2 separate regions of the Homo sapiens genome follow, and region 1 is linked to region 2. The links come from fine-mapping of genetic effects on plasma protein levels. A gene starts in region 2. The other region holds a variant in brackets. All regions are shown on one strand. Distances are from middle to middle. Region 1 overlaps CD200R1 (CD200 receptor 1). Region 2 holds the start of CD200R1 (CD200 receptor 1).

The links. A credible set is the group of variants that fine-mapping cannot tell apart. PIP is the chance, under the fine-mapping model, that this variant and not a neighbour inherited with it causes the effect. Protein levels are from antibody-based Olink assays in UK Biobank. Linkage for the fine-mapping came from a reference panel and not from the study's own genotypes, which makes the PIPs less certain.
Region 1: its variant is the best candidate, but not a certain one, in a credible set for the plasma level of the CD200R1 protein (UK Biobank, PIP 0.61).

The regions. Positions count from the first base shown.
Region 1 is chr3:112,934,041-112,942,359 of GRCh38, forward strand. All of the region lies in intron 2 of CD200R1 (CD200 receptor 1), which reads right to left. Among named protein-coding and RNA genes, the nearest start is that of CD200R1, 37 kb to the right of the region's middle. The variant TG/T (reference allele first, on the strand shown) is at 3,425.
Region 2 is chr3:112,968,167-112,976,499 of GRCh38, forward strand. CD200R1 (CD200 receptor 1) reads right to left here and starts at 6,937. Exons shown (of 8, transcript NM_138806.4): 1 at 6,625-6,937. The coding sequence starts at 6,691.

The DNA.
Region 1 (8,319 bases), 34 kb before region 2:
GAAAAAGGCACAGAAAACATATTTAATAAAATAATAGCAGAAAACTTTCCAAGTTTTGGGAGAGAGAGAGAGATTCAGATCCAAGAAGTTCAAAATTTCCCAAATAGATTTAACCCAAATACATCCTCTCTAAGGAATGTTATAGTCAAATTATCAAAAGGCAAAGACAAAGGAAGAATGATAAAAACACGCAAGAGAAAAGCATCAAGCCAAATATAAGGGAATCCCCCTTATACTGATAGCAGATTTCTCATCAGAAACCTTATGGGCCAAGAGAAAATGGAGTGATACATTCAAAGTACTGAAAGAAAATAACTGTCAGTGAATATTATATCCAGAAAAACTATCCTTCAGAAATAAAGGCAAGACTGTCACCAAGCAGAAAAAAAAAATCAATAAAATGACAGATGTAAGTTCTCATCTATCAAATAATCTTGAATGTAAATGGATTCAATTTCCCAATTAAAAGATATAGACTGGCCAAGTGGATTTAAAAATATAAGACCCAGCTGGGCATGGTGGCTCACGCCTGTAATCCTAGCACTTTGGGAGGCCAAGGAGGGTGCATTACCTGAAGTCAAGAGTTTGAGACTAGCCCGGCCAACATGATGAAACCCCATCCCTACTAAAAATACAAAAATTAGCTGGACATGGTGGCGGGCACCTGTAATCCCAGCTACTCAGGAGGCTGAGGCAGGAGAATTGCTTGAACCGGGGAAGCAGAGGTTGCAGTGAACCAAGATCATGCCATTGCACTCCAGCCTGGGTGACAAGAGCGAAACTCCATCTCAAAAAACCAACTATATGCCACCTACAGGAAACTCATCTCACCTGTAAAGACACACATAAACTGAAAGTGGAGTGGAAAAAAGACATGCAAACAGAATCCAAATACAAGCAGGAGTAGCTATACTTACATTAGATAAAACAGACTTTAAGACAAAGGCTATATAAAAAAGAACATTATGTAAAAATAAAGGAATTTATTCAGCAAGACGACATAACAATTGGAAATATATATGGACCCAATGTTGGAGCACCCAGATATATAAAGCTAATATTATTAAAGCTAAAGGGAGAGATAAACCTCAAAGCAATAATAGGTGGGGACTTCAACACCCTACTTTCAGCATTAGGCAGATGATCTAGACAGAAAATCAAGAAACATTGGATCTAAACCACACCATAAATCAAACAGACCTAACAGACCTTTACAGAACATTTTATATAACAGCTGCAAAATACACATTATTTTCACCAGCACATGGAACATTCTCCAGAATTGACAATATGTTAGGTCACAAAACAAGTCTCAAATAATTTTTAAAAATTACAATCATATCATCTTATGTGACCACAATGGAATAAAATTAGAAATCAATAACAAGAGGAACATTTGAAACTATACAAATACATGAAAGTTAAACAGCATGTTCCTGAATGACAAATGAGTAAAGAAAGAAATTAAGAAGTTTAAGAATTTCTTGAAACAAATGAAAATAGAAACACAAAATACCAAAACCTAAGGGATACAGCAAAAGCAGCATTAAGAGGCAAATCCATAGCAATAAATCCCTACATCAAAAAAGTAGTAATATTTCAAATTAACATCCTAACAGCACATATTAAGGAAGAAAACCAGGAATAAACTGAACCCAAAATTAGTAGGAGGAATAAAGATCAGAGCAGAACTCAATGAAACTGAACCTAAAAAGAAATGCAAAAAACCAACAACAAAAAAGTTTTGTTTTTTCTGTTTGCAATATTTTAACTTCAGGGGTATATAGGTAGGATGTGCAGGTTTATTAGGTAAATGTATGCCATGGTGATTTGCTGCACAGATCATTCCATCACCGAGGTATTAAGCCCAGCATCCATCAGCTATTCTTTCTGATGCTCTCCCTCCTCCCACTCCCCACCCTCTGACAGGCTCCAGTGTGTGTTTCCACCCTCCATATGTCCATGTGTTCTTATCATTCAGCTCCCACTTATAAGTGAGAAAATGCACTGTTTGGTTTTCTGTTTCTGCATTAGTTTGCTGAGGATAATCTAATCACCTCCACCTGCATCCATGTCCCTGCAAAGGACATGAACTCATCTATACATGGCTGCATAATATTTCATGGTATATATGTACCACATTTTCTTTATTCAGTCTATCACTGATGGGCATTTAGGTTGACTTCATGTCTTTGCTATTGTGAATAGTGCTGCAATGAACATACACGTGCATGTATCCTTAAAATGGAATTATTTATATTCCTTTGGGTATATACCCAGTAATCAGATTGCCGAGTCAAACAGTATTTCTGCCTCTATGTCTTTGATGAATCACCACATTGTCTTCCACAATGGTTGCACTAATTTACACTCCCACCAACAGTGTAAAAGTGTTCCTTTTTCTCCATAACCTCGCTAGCATCTGTTGTTTCTGGACTTTTTAGTAATCACCATTCTGACTGGTGTGAGATAGTATCTCATTGTAGTTTTGATTTGCATTTCTCTAATGATCAGTGATGTTGAGCTTTTTTTCATATGTTTCTTGGTTGCATGTATGTCTTCTTTTGAGAATTATCTATTCATGTTCCTTACCCACTTTTTAATGGGGTTCTTTTTTTCTTATACATTTGTTTAAGTTCCTTGTAGATGCTGGACATTAGGCCTTTGTTAGATGAATAGATTATAAAACTTTTCTCCCATTCTGTAGGTTGTCTGTTTACTCTGTTGATAGTTTCTTTGGCTGTGCAGAAGCTCTTTAGTTTAATCAGATCCCATTTGTCAATTTTTGTTTTTGTTGAAGTTGCTTTTGGCATCTTTGTCATGAAATCATGAAATCTTTGCCTGAGCCTATGTCCTGAATGATATTGTCTTGATTTTCTTCTAGGGTTTTTAGAGTTTGGGGTTTTACGTTTAAGTCTTTAATCCATCTTGAGTTGATTTTTGTACATGATGTAAGGAAGGTGTTTTACTCTGCTCTCATGCTGCTAATAAAGACATACCCAAGACTGGATAATTTATAAAAGAAAGAGGTTTAATTGACTCATAGTTCAGCATGGCTTGGGAGGCCTCAGAAAATTTACAATCACGACAGAAGGGGAAGCAGACATGTCCTTTTTCACATGGCAGCAGCATGGAGAAGTGCCAAGCAAAAGGAGGAAAAGCCCCTTATAAAACCGTCAAATCTCATGAGAATTCACTCACTATCATGAGAACAGCATGAGAGTAACTGCCCCCCATGATTAAATTACCTCCCAGCAGGTCCCTCCCATGACACATGGAGATTATAGAAACTACATTTCAAGATGAGATTTGGGTGGGGACACAGCCAAACCATATCAGAAGGGGTCCACTTTCAATTTTCTTCATATGGCTAGCCAGCTGTCCCAGCACCATTTATTAAATAGGGAATCCTTTCCCCATTGCT[TG/T]TTTCTGTCAGGTTTGTCAAAGATAAGATAGTTGTAGGTGTGCGGTGTTATTTCTGGGTTCTCTATTCTGTTCCATTGGTCTATGTGTCTGTTCTCGTACAACTACCATGCTGTTTTGATTACTGTAGCCCTATAGTATAGTTTGAAGTCAGGTAGCATGATGCTTCCAGCTTTGTTCTTTTTGCTGAGAATTGCCTTTGCTATTTGGGTTATGTTTTGGTTCCATATGAATTTTAAAACTGTTTTTTCTAATTCTGTGAACAATGTCAATTGTAGCTTAATGGGAATAGCACTGAATCTATAAACTATTTTGGGCAGTATGGTCATTTTCACAATATTGATTCTTCCTATCCATGAGCATGGACTGTTTTTCCATTTGTTTGTGTCATCTCTGATTTCTTTGAGCAGCAGTTTATAGTTTTTCTTAAAGAGGTCCTTCACTTCCCTTGTTAGTTGTTTTCCTAGGTATTTTATTCTTTTGTGGCAATTGTGAATGGGCGTTCATTTATGATTTGGCTCTTGTCTTGTCTGTTGTTGGTGTATAGGAATACTAGCAATTTTTGCACAATGATTTTGGATCCTGAAACTTTGCAGAAGTTACTTATCAGCTTAAGAAGCTTTTGGGCTGAGATGATGGGGTTTTCTAGATATAGAATCATGTTATCTGCAAACAAAGATAACTTGAGTTCCTCTCCTCCTATTTGAATTTTCTTTGTTTCTTTCTCTTGCATGATTACCCTGGCCACAACTTCCAATACCATGTTAAATAGAAGTGGTGAGAGAGGGCATCCTTGTCTTGTGCCAGTTTTCAAGGGGAATGCTTCTAGTTTTTGCCCATTCAGTATGATATGAGCTGTGGGTTTGTAAAAAGATTAACATAATTGACAAGCCATTAGCTAGATGAATAAAGAAAAAAAGAGAAAAAACCAAATTAATAAAATCAGAAACAAAAAGGAGACATAATAACAGAGACTACATAAATACAAAAGACCATTAGAAACTATTATGAACAACTACACATGAATAAATTCAAAAGATTAGAGAAAACTGAAAAATTCCCGGATACAGACAACCTAACAACTTTAAACCAACAAGAAATGGAAAACCTCAGTCCAATAATGAGTAATGAGATTGAATTAGTAATGAAAAGTCTCCCAACAAAGAAAAGTCCAGGAACAAATGGCTTCACAGCTGAATTCTACCAAACTTTTAAAGAACTAATACCAGTCCTTGATACACAGATGAAATACTTCAAACTATTCCAAAAAATTGAATGTAAAACTCATTTGAATGTCATCGAATGTCAAAACTCATTTGACAAGCCCAGCATGATTGTGATACAAAAACCAGATAAGACACAGCAAAAAAGAAAAGCACAAGCCAATACTACTAATAAACATATATATAAAATACTAGCAAATGAATTCAACAGAACATCAAAAACATCAGGCACCATAATCAAGTGAGATTCACCTCAGATATGCAAGGATGGTTCAACATATGCAAATCGATATTTGTGATACATTGCATCAACAAAATGAAGAACAAAAACTAGGTGATTATTTTAATATCATATGATCAGAAAAAGCATTTTATAAAATTCAACATCCCTTCATCACTAAAAACTTTCAATAAATTAGGTACAGAAGAAAGTACTTCAACACAATAAAGGCCATCTATAGGCCATGTAGCTAATATTATACTAAATGGGGAAAAGCTTTCAGCTTTTAAGAATTAGAAGAAGAATTAGAAGAAAAAGTGCCTACTCTCACCCTTGTTATTCAAGATAGTACTGGAAGTCTGGCCCAGAGAAATTAGGCAAGAAAAATAAATAAGTAAAGTACATCCAATTTAGAAAGGAGGAAGTCAAATTGTCCATGTTTCCAGATAAAATTATCTTATATAGAGAAACCCTAAAGACTGCACCAAAAAACTGTTAACACTGATAAACAAATTCAATAAAGTTGCAGCATACAAAATCAATAGACAAAACTTAGTAGCATTTCTATACACAAACAACAAACCAGATGAAAAGGAAATCATGAAAGCAATCCCATTTACAATAGCTACAAAAATATATAAATGAATGAATAAAATATCTACGAATGAATTTAACCAAGGAGATGAAAGATCTCTGCAAGTAAAGCCATACAACACTGCAGAAAGAAATTTAAGAAGACACAAAAAATAGAAAGACATCCCATATTCATGGACTAGAATAACTAATATTGTTAAAATGCCCATACTACCCAAAGTAGTCTACAGAATAAATGTAATTACTATCAAGATACCAATGAAGTGTCATTTCATTTAACAAAAATAGAAAAAAAATCCTGAAATTTACATGGAACCACAAAAGACCCGAAACAGCCAAAGCCCATACTGAGCAAAAAACAAACAAACCAAAAAAAAAAAAAAAACAAGCTGCGGCATCACACTAACAGACTTCAAAATATACCATAAAGCTGTACTAATCAAAACAGCATGGTACTGGCATAAAAACCGACACATAGAAAAATGGAACAGCATAGAGAACCCAGAAATTAGTCCACATATATACAGTCAACTGCTTTGACAAAGATGTCAAGAACATACATTTGGGAAAGGACACCTTCTTTAATAAATGGCGCTGGGTAAACTGAATATTCATATGCAGAAGAATGAAACTAGACCTCCTGCCTCTCACCCCATACAAAAATCAACTCAAAATTCATTGAAGACCTAAATATAAGACCAGAAACTATAAAACTGCTAGAAGAAAACACCGATGAAATACTTCAGGACATTGATCTGAGAAATAATTTTAAGAATAAGACCTCAATAGCATAGGTAACTAAAGCAAAAATAAACACATGGGATTATATAAAACTAAAAACCTTCTGCACAGCAAAACAATAAACAGAATGAATAAACTTACAGAATGGGATAAAATATTTGTAAAATATTCATCCAACAAAAGAGTAATATCCAGATATACAAGGAATTCAAATATCTCCACAATAACAGAAAAACTAACTTAAAAATGGGTAATTGATACAGATATTTCTGAACAGAAGACATACATATGGTTAACAAATACATGAAAAAGTGCTCAACATCACTAATCATCAAGGAAATGTCAATTAAAATCACAAGGAGATATCATTCACCCCAGTTAGAATGGCTATTATCAAAAAGACACAAATAAATGTTGGTGAGGATGCAAAGAAAAGGGAATTCTTATAAATCACTGATAGGAATGTAAACTAATACAGTCTCTATGAAGAATAGTATGGAAGTTCCTAAAAAAATTAGAAATAGAAATGTCATATGATCCAGCAATCTTGCTCGTAAACATTTATTCAAAGGAAAGGAAATAAATATGTTAAAGAAATATCTATCTGCACCCCTATGTTTATTACAGCAATATTCACAATAGCCAAGACAGGAAATCAACCCAAACGCCCAATAACAAATGAATGGATAAAGAAAATGTGGTATATATACACAATGGAATACTATTCAGCCATAAAAAATGAAATCTTGTCATTCACAGCAACATGGATGGAACCGGAGGATATTATGTTGAGTGAAATAAGCCAAGAACAAAAAGCCAAACATCACATGTTCTCATTCTATGCAGAAGTTTAAAAAAAGTTGGTCTCATAGAAGTAAAAGGCAGAACACAGGCTTCTATAGACTACAAAGGGTAAGGGAAAGGGGGGAATAGAGGAAATTTGTTAAAGGGCACAAAATTATAGCTAGGTAGGATGAGCAAGTTCTATTGTTTTATAGTACTGTAGGATGACTATAGTTCACAATAATATATTACATATTTTCAAAGAGCTAGAAGAAGATATTGAATGTTCCCAACACAAGGAAATGTTTGAAGTGAAGGATATGCCAATTACCATGATCTGATTACTACAAATTGTATGTATCAAAATATTACTATGTACCCCATAAATATGTGCAATTATTATGTGTCAGTTAAAATTAATATAAATAAGTAACTAAAGCAGAAGCAGGAGAGGAACAGAGATGAGAGCCCTCATCTAGTTCAACTTTCTAATTCCATAATTTCTGAGATCAACATGCATTCCTTCCCTTGAGCTCTGTAGAGTTTTTCACAATCACAATAGTTTTAATCTATTTCAAATTTTGTTTTTGAAAAGTTGCTATATTGTAGTTAAAAAAATGAAAAAAATAAGAAATACTTTAAATAATAATGACTAAGAATTTTCTCCAAATTAATTTCAGACACTAAATCACAGATCCAGGAAACTCAGAGAACGCCAAGCAGAATAAATGCCAAAAATAACCTACACCTAGATGTATTATTTTCAAATTACAGAAAATCAAATGTAAAGAAATACTTCAGAAAGAAGCCAGAAGGGAAAAACACCTTACCTACCAAGAAGAAAAGAAAAGAATTATACCCAACTTCTCCTCAGAGACCATGCAAGCAAGAAGACAGCAAAGTAAAATATTTGAGGTGTTGAGGGAAAAAAACTACCAACCTAGAATTTCATGTCCTGCAAAAACTATCCTCCAAAACTGAAGGAGAAATAAAGATGTTCTCAGACAAACAAAAATTGTGGGAATTTGTTGTCTGTAGGCCTGCCTTCCAAAAAATGTTGAGAGAAATTTTTTTAGAGAGAAGTAAAATAATATCAGTCAAAAACTCAGATCTATATCAAGAAGAACACTGGAAAACAAACAAGTGAAGGTAAAATTAAAACTTGCATTTTTCTTATTCTTAATTAATCTAACAGATAACACTTTGTCCAAAATAATGATAGTAACAATGTATTTGATTATGTATGTGTTATGTATAAGAAGAATGAATAAAATAATGATACAAGGAAAGGAAGGAAGGAACTAGGACTATTTTGTTATTGCAAGGTATTCACAC
Region 2 (8,333 bases):
AAATTTTACTAGAAATTATGGGAAAGAAGAACGAAATTTTACTGAGAAAAGTGAAATGTACCAAAACATTCAATGCATGGGTAACATTTAGAAAGCAAAAAAGCATAATAATATATTCAATCTTAACATCCAAGACAATATAACCACTAAGTCAATATTAGTTGTAAAAATACAATAATATTTTAAAATATGTATATTTGAAGAAAGTTTCACTTCTTTATGGGCCAGTGAGTTTCCACAGGTAAGAACTATAAATTGTGGACAAAATATAAAAACAACTACCTGAGGTTACTGGAAAGTGGAGGAAGCAGAAAAATTCTTGAAGGGTGTCAATGCTTGGAAGAAGGAAATAGGGGATCAGAGTTGTGGGTGTAGGTTCCCATTATTTCCCCATTTTTACCGATGTTAGTCCCAGAGAGGGCTGCAGATGATACCACATTAGGCAGCTACTCTAATGGAAAGCCCACAGTTTTCTGAAGAACCAGCAGGCAGATTTTAGGGCAACTTTACTCTCTGAAAAGTGACAGAGTCAGAGTAAAAGAGTTCCAAATTCTGCATACACTCTACCCATATCTCTGATGACTCTAAACCACACATTGCAGGTCACAGTCAAAGCAGATTAGCTACCAGTAAAAGAACTCAGATTTGAGATGCTGTCCAAGGGGTAGAGTTTGCAGTTTGGGTCCAACCAAGTAAAATATCAACACAGCAATATAACAGAATCTGTGCAACATTCAAAACCCAAATAAAACTATTTAATTTACAAAGAACCAAGAAAATGTGGCCTATGCTTAGGAGAAAATACATTAAGGGAGACTAACAACTTCAAGTTGACCCAGACACTCGCATTCTCAGACAAGAGTCTTACAGCAACATTCAGCTATGCTTAGTGACATAAAGAAATATATACTCACAATGAATGAATAAAAACACAGAAAAATCTCAGCAGAGAAAAAAAACTTTTAACAAATAAATGGAAATCTTAAAATTGAAAAATACAATATCTAAAATAATATATTAACTAGGGCTTTACAGAAGAATGAAGAGGAGAAAGGAAATTGTAATTGTCAGTGAACTTGAATATATAGCAATAGAAATTATTCAATCAAAAGAACAGAGAGACAAGATATTGGGGAAAATATGTATAAAAAGGGAACTAAGAACTAAGAGAACTCCTCACTAGCAGACCTACACTACTAGAAACAATAACAGAAATTATTCAGGATGAAAGAAAATAATACCAGGTAGAAACTTGGAAATTCAAGAAGGAATTAAGAGTATTAGAAATGACAACTAGAGTGGACATAGTATGTGCCACCAACAGTTGCCTCTGACTTTTTGTTCCTGCCACTAGGATCACTGTCAACAGACAGTCTTCAGTTTTCAGCCTCTCCAGGGATGACTTCAGTTACTTAGACCAAAGTCAGACCCTTTCCAGGGGAGCCCATATCCAACGACTGATTTAGATGGAGTTATAAAGGAACAGCCATTTTTATTCAATGCAGGGCCTCTCTAAGGCCAATCTAGCTCCTGAGCTCCCTGTGGGGTCAGTGAGGGTGTCAGTTGGTTGAGATTGCAGGTAGACTTCTCCCTCTGCTCACAAGCATACTGTACACAAAACTCTATCTCAGAGTCTAACTTCCAAGAGAACCTGCAACAGCAACAATAACTCAAAGTAACAGACATTTTTGAAGAAAATTATTTCTTCAAAAGTGGAAAAACTGGCCAGGTACAGTGACTCACGCCTGTAATTCCAACACTTTGGGAGGCCAAGGCAGGAGGATTGCTTGAACCCAGGAGTTCAAGACCAGCCTGGGCAACATGGGAAAACCCTGTCTCTACAAAAAATACAAAAAAAAAAATTAGCCTGGCGTGGTGGTGCACACCTGTAGTCCCAGCTACTTGGGAGTCTGAAACAGGAGGATAACCTGAGACTGGGAGGTCAAGGCTGCAGTAAGCCATGATTGCACCACTGCACTCCAGCCTGAGTGATAGATAGAGTAAGACCCTGTCTCAAAAAAGAAATAGAAAAACTTTTAGCCCTGCTTTAATCCTGGAACTTTTTGGTATTGCTTTCCTTAAAGATTTTGGTCCTAGAATGGGGTCTAGGCATATAAATTCTATGTAGAAAAACTCTGAAGTTGTTGCTTAGTGTTAATGCATGAACAATATCATTTCTTCCTGGGGGGAAAAAGGGCTGATTGTGACTGTGTCTATTATATGAATTATATAAATCAGTGATATTTATTACCATTATTATTATTTAAAAAGTAATGATTGTTGACTTGATTCTTAGGGCCTACTAGCATCACATAGTCCAAAGGTATTTTATAACCACAGATCTGCTCCCAAATCCCAGTCAGCAATTGACAAATGTATGTGAGTGATAATAAGGCAGAAGAGGTAAAAACATGTTGATGGCTACTACATTTTTCAGACACAAATGGTTTTTCAGACACAAATGGTTAATTTTTCAGACACAACATAAAATCAAACAACAACTGGGTCATTTTATTAACTAAATGCCATTAACTGAAATATTCATGACCTTATTGGGAGGAAATTTATCTACGGTAAACTCTCTCATTTGTTCCCATTACCTTATTGCCATCCTCAAGCTACTAGCATCCCTCTATCTAATGTCTCATCTTAATCCTCAATTTCAGAAGAGTATCTCCTCCTACATGAGGTTAAGCACTCAATTGATACTCCACTTTGGCTCCCTTCCTGTCTCTTCTCAGATCTTCCTATCTTTTATAGACTGGAAAGAGATAAGTATGGTTCTTAGAGCCCAAATCCAAATATCTCTAGTGCTTATTCTATTGTTTTTGTCCATATGTTTATTCTGTTCGTGGGATGGATCATCTACTTCATGAATGATTCACAAACACTAGAGTTTTCTATACAGTCATCCCTCAGTGTCCTTGGGGGATTAGTTCTAGACCCCCAGAGATGGCAAAATTCAAGGATGCTCAAATCCCTAATATAAAATGGTGTAGTATTTCATATAACCTATGTACAATCTCTCACATACTTTCAATCATCTCTAGATTGCTATAAAACCTAATACAATGTAAATAATACATAAGTAGCTATTATATTGAATTATTTAGGAAATGACAAGAACAAAATCTGTACATGTTCAGTACTAATGAAATCATCTATTTTTTCCCTTTATATTTTCAACTGAAGTTGGTTGAATCCAGGGATGCAATACAGAGGGCTGACTGTATTTCCAAGTATCTGTAGGAATTTTCCTCCTACTTGTCCTCCCTTCCTATACTGAATTTAATATCTTCCTCCACAACGAAACTCCCTTCTCAGTCACATATATACCTCAGCGGCATCACAGAACTTTTTTCAAATGAGAACCCCAGGGCAGAAGCTCTTGACTCATGTTTCAAAATAAATATTTTACCTAGTGCCACCGCCACTCAATGGGACACTGTTACCACATTATTCTCCAAAAAATCCTACTTAATTATAAATTTTCCTGTTCACCAAAGAACAGGTGGTTCCTCATTGTCTACTGACTAATACCCAGGTTCTTTAATTTAGCTATTAAGGACCCCCAAAATCCAGCCTTATTTCCTACTATTATTTAACACACAACCTCTGTTCCTGCAAGCTACAGCTCTTTCTCTCTCTGAAGCACCTTGCATTTGCACATGCTACACATCCCATCCTTCCAATTCCTTTCTCTGCATTTCCCCATTTATCCAAACCTGTCATTCAAAGCCTAGCTCAAGACCCATCTCCATAAAATCCTCCACAACTCCAACCCACTGTAATTTCTCCCTCCTTTAGATTTGTACTAGTTTCATATACAATTTCAAGATTTACTGATTTTAAATGTTCACCAATTGTTTCATCTTACCTTTGTCTTTCTAATTTAGATTACTAATAACTTTTAGGCACTATTCTACACACACACACAGACATTAATAAGGACTTTTAATTAATTTATTAATTGCTTAAGCATGAACATTTAGAGAAAAACACACCTATAAATTATTATAACATGTAAATTCACAAATATGCAAACTAGAAAAGGAAGATAGGACTAAAGTTATTAATAAGGACAAAACCCTTCTTTTGCACAATTGTTTTGAATCTTTTTCCACTGTTTGCAAATCTGCCAAAGCTACCTTAGAGCCCTGTCTTGATTTTTATCTCCTCTTCTTGTTACTGCCTGTCCTCTAGTGGAAGACAACAATAAATGAATAAAAATTAGCCCAAAGAAGGAAAGAAGTGAAGGGTTCCTTTTTAGTAACTCATAATCACAAAATCAGTAACTTTTATAAAAGATGGAATAATTTTAATTGGAACACCAAAATATAATTTGAACACACACACAAAAATCTAGAAGACAATAGGGCTAAAAAAAAGGAGGAAGAAGTGGCACAGGGTACGGGGAGTGTCCGGGAAGGGGACCAGGTACAAGGCTGGGAATATAGCTCTGATGTACACAATTTAGGTTGTTTTTATTTTTCCCCTTAGGTTTTTTCTGGATAAATCTTGTTTACTAACTGCCAAGCTGCTTGAAGTTATAAGCAAATAAGTAGACAAAAAGAAAATAGGGAAACCAAATGAATACTATGTTTTACATTTAAGTCATTAGCTCCCTTGTTCCTTTGTGAATTTACCTTGTACAAAGCGAGTTCTTTCTGTTTGGCAGTATTAATAACATAGCAGTTTTAGCAATAAAGACATAAAGTCATATTTCCCCAAGTGGTATGCTTCTCATTATTCTAAATCATGTCATGGTTAACCTATCACACCAAATCACTACATGTAAAGTAATATGCTTTTTTAAATCCTGATTTTAAACATTTAATAACTTTACAATAACATAAGCATAGACTTCATAGATCTGCTATATGTAGTCTTTCCTAGTTGTGTTCAGAAATAGTTTTAAAATTTAAACCTTTCAACCTTTAAAATTGAAAATTACAAATTATGTTTTAATCATTTTTTTTCCTTTTCCCAGGAGTAACAGTGCAATTTGACATAAACAGCTCCTTGCCTATCTGGCTGCCCCAGCCAAGCTGGGTCCTACACAAGTTGCTATAAGAGCTTTCTACAACAAGATCTGAACTACTGAAAGATTCAGATCACTTGACTTTTTAGGTGAGTAACAGTCTATTAAGGCTAAAACTAAGTATTGGCTTGACTTTTTTCACTGATGCTCTTCAGTGAAAAGCACAATGGTTAAATAATGAGGAAAATTGCCCACTCAAATGTTTAGTGGTGCTTACTGATGTATATCATTACTGATTGTGATTCTGGCACATACTAGTCATATCTAACCTTGGCCAAATCATTTCACCTCTCTACGCCTCCATTTCTACCTTTGTAAAATGGAGAGGTGTCTTCCATGTCTACTTCACTGGGTTGCTGTGCAGATCAAAGGGAAAAAAGCATGTGAAAATTCTCAATAGAAAGGTGCAGTCAAAGAGTGTAGTTATTTTGCATGTGTTCACTAGTAAGATTAACATGTGGAAAGAAGATTTTTTGTGGAAGATAAGCAGCATTTTAAAGTCATTCAGAAATGAGGAAAAATACCTTTTCTTCTTTCAATTATCAAATTATAACATTTAAAACCAACTACACTCTTCCCTTGCAGCTGCTCTGTCTACCAAAAGTGAAACCTGAAAACTCCCTCCCACACCAACTCCTACCAACCTTCTACAGTGAAACCAGGACACCCCCACAGTGGCCCAAGTTCTCTATAACTTCTATAGGAACCTAGATGTTGAAGAGTCTGTTCTCTAACTCGTAGTGTCTCTTACAGCCCACACATCTTGAAGATAAATACAGACATACATCACAGACGCACCACTGTAACTGTAGGCATATTATATTTTTGAAGTGCCTAATCATCGAAAGTGACAGAAAGCAATAAACTGTCCTAATCTATGCCACTGGCAATGTGGACCTAAATGAGTTAGCGTTCTTATCTTAAAAAAAAAAATTAAGAGAGAAGAGGCTGGGTGCAGTGGCTCATGCCTGTAATCCCAATGCTTTGGGAGTCTGAGGTGGGAGAATTGCTTGAAGACAGGAGCTCAAGACCAGCATGGACAATATAGCAAGACTCTATCTCTACCAAAAATTTTAAAAATTAGCCAAGCATAGTGGCGCATATCTGTAGTCCTAGACACTCAGGAGGCTGAGTGGGAGGACTGCTTGAGACCTGGAGTTACAGGCTGCAGTGAGCTACGATTGCACCACTGCACTCCAGCCTGGGCAACAGAGCAAGACCCTGTCTCAAAAAAGGGGGTTGGGGAAGAGAATAAGATAAAGAGAACCTAACTGACTTTGATTGCTGCTAGTATGTATTTGATTTATCCTGCCTTGTTCAAAAAACAGGAGGAAATAAGGAAATGGACAGTAAGACAAATTATAGAGATCTGTATATTGTAGTAGGATACAAAGTACAACAAGCAAGACACCGGAAAAAAGGATAATAAAGTAAACTAGATATGGGAGTAACCCATATTTAGCAACCCCCTATATTTATTATTGCAATTGATTTGTATTGCCCCAGAAGAAAGACAAAAAATAAACTCAGGAAGAGCTGAGACCAGGTTTCTCACTGTTCTCCCAAAGAGAATTCAAACTTACCGGCCACTAAGAAGATAGTCAAAATCAACAGTAGCCCTAGGTTAGCAGTTCTCCAAGGGCAGAGCATTTCTGTTTTCTCTTTTTCTGCCCTTCACTCAGTACTTTTCCTCCACACAGGTACAGAAGGAACTGTGCGCATGGTGAGACCCTCTCTGGTCAACTTCTCAGTACAGGATCCTCTTACCCCATCAACAGTGGGGCACTCCCTTCCTTCTAGCCCCTTCCTTCACGTCTATGTGGTTTAGCCTGGTTAGTAACTTGGACGAACAGAAGCTTTTCTCTGGAACTTGACACAGCAATAGATTTCCTGTATGAAGCCCTGAAGCAAAGACGGAGGAAGCAGATTGATTGAATTATCTCTCAGCTCATTGGTTCTCCTCTCACTTCTGCTGTACACAGACAAACTTTACAGTAAGGCATTGAACGTGTCCAAGATAAACAGATTTGTCTAAACTTGCACCAAAAAGTAAAACAGAATATTGATCTACTTTGGCCCATCCTTGTAAATTTCCCAATTATGATGACTTTTAGAGGCTTTCTCCAGGTTGAAGAGCTTTACGGCCTTAGTATTTGAGTCTGGAATACAATATGTTTTCTTGAAAATTATTGTGTGAAATTCCTGTCTATAATGGGAGTCAACACACAACCCTGTAAACATCATATGTGTATTAGTTTCCTATTGCTACTGTAAGAAATTACCACAAACTCAGTGGCTTAACACAACACAACATTTATTATCTTACAGTTCTGGTGATCAGAAGTCTGAAATGGATCTTAGGGGACTAAAATCAAGGTGTTGGAAGGGCTGCACTCCATCTGGAGGCTCGGGCAGAATTTGCTCCCTGCCTTTTCCAGCGATTTGAGAATGCCTGCATTTCTTGGCTTGCAGCTACATCATTCGGACCTCTGGTCCACTGTCACATCTTCTCTGACTGTGACCCTTATGCCTCCCTTTTATAAAGACCTTGTGATTATTTTTGGTCCACCCAAATAATCCAACATGATCTAATTTCAAGATCTTAATTTAATCACATCTGCAAAGTCCTTTTTGCCACACAAGGTAACATTCACAGGTTTCGGTAATTCGGACATAGGTATCTACCTTGTTGGGGGTGAGGGCATTCTGTTTATCAGAACTCAGTACTTATTGCCATTCAGTTTCACCTTTGGAAAATTAGACTGATCATTTTAACCAAATTACAAATAATCACCCATCTCTTAGTTGCCACACATCTGGAATTCAGACTCCCCCTAACCAAAAAAAAAAAACAACAACAACAACAAAAAAACCTCTTCCTTACTGTTGCTAGTTACTATGTTACTATGCTTTTAAGTTATGTCTGAGAGAGGGAAAAATCTTCTATGTGCTGAGAATTTTCTGCCCCAAGGCAAAACTGTACAGGAAGGGGAAGAAAACATTGCAAACAGGAAAAAGATTAAACAGCATGCATTTTTTTTCTCAGTTAGCAGTTTCATCTTCCTTCTTGCCAAACATTATAAATATTTCCCCCCTTCCCCTTCTCAAGCTTTTTTTTCCAGTTAATTAATTTGATGAAGACAGTGAAACCAGATCCTTGAGGGCATGGAACACTTAAGGGTATGAGCTGTGACAATGGGAAGACCAAAACAAAAATGTCTTCTCTTCTGTCTAATGTTTCACCAGGTGTCGGAAAATTAGTGAGAATACATCATTTAAAATACAGATAATA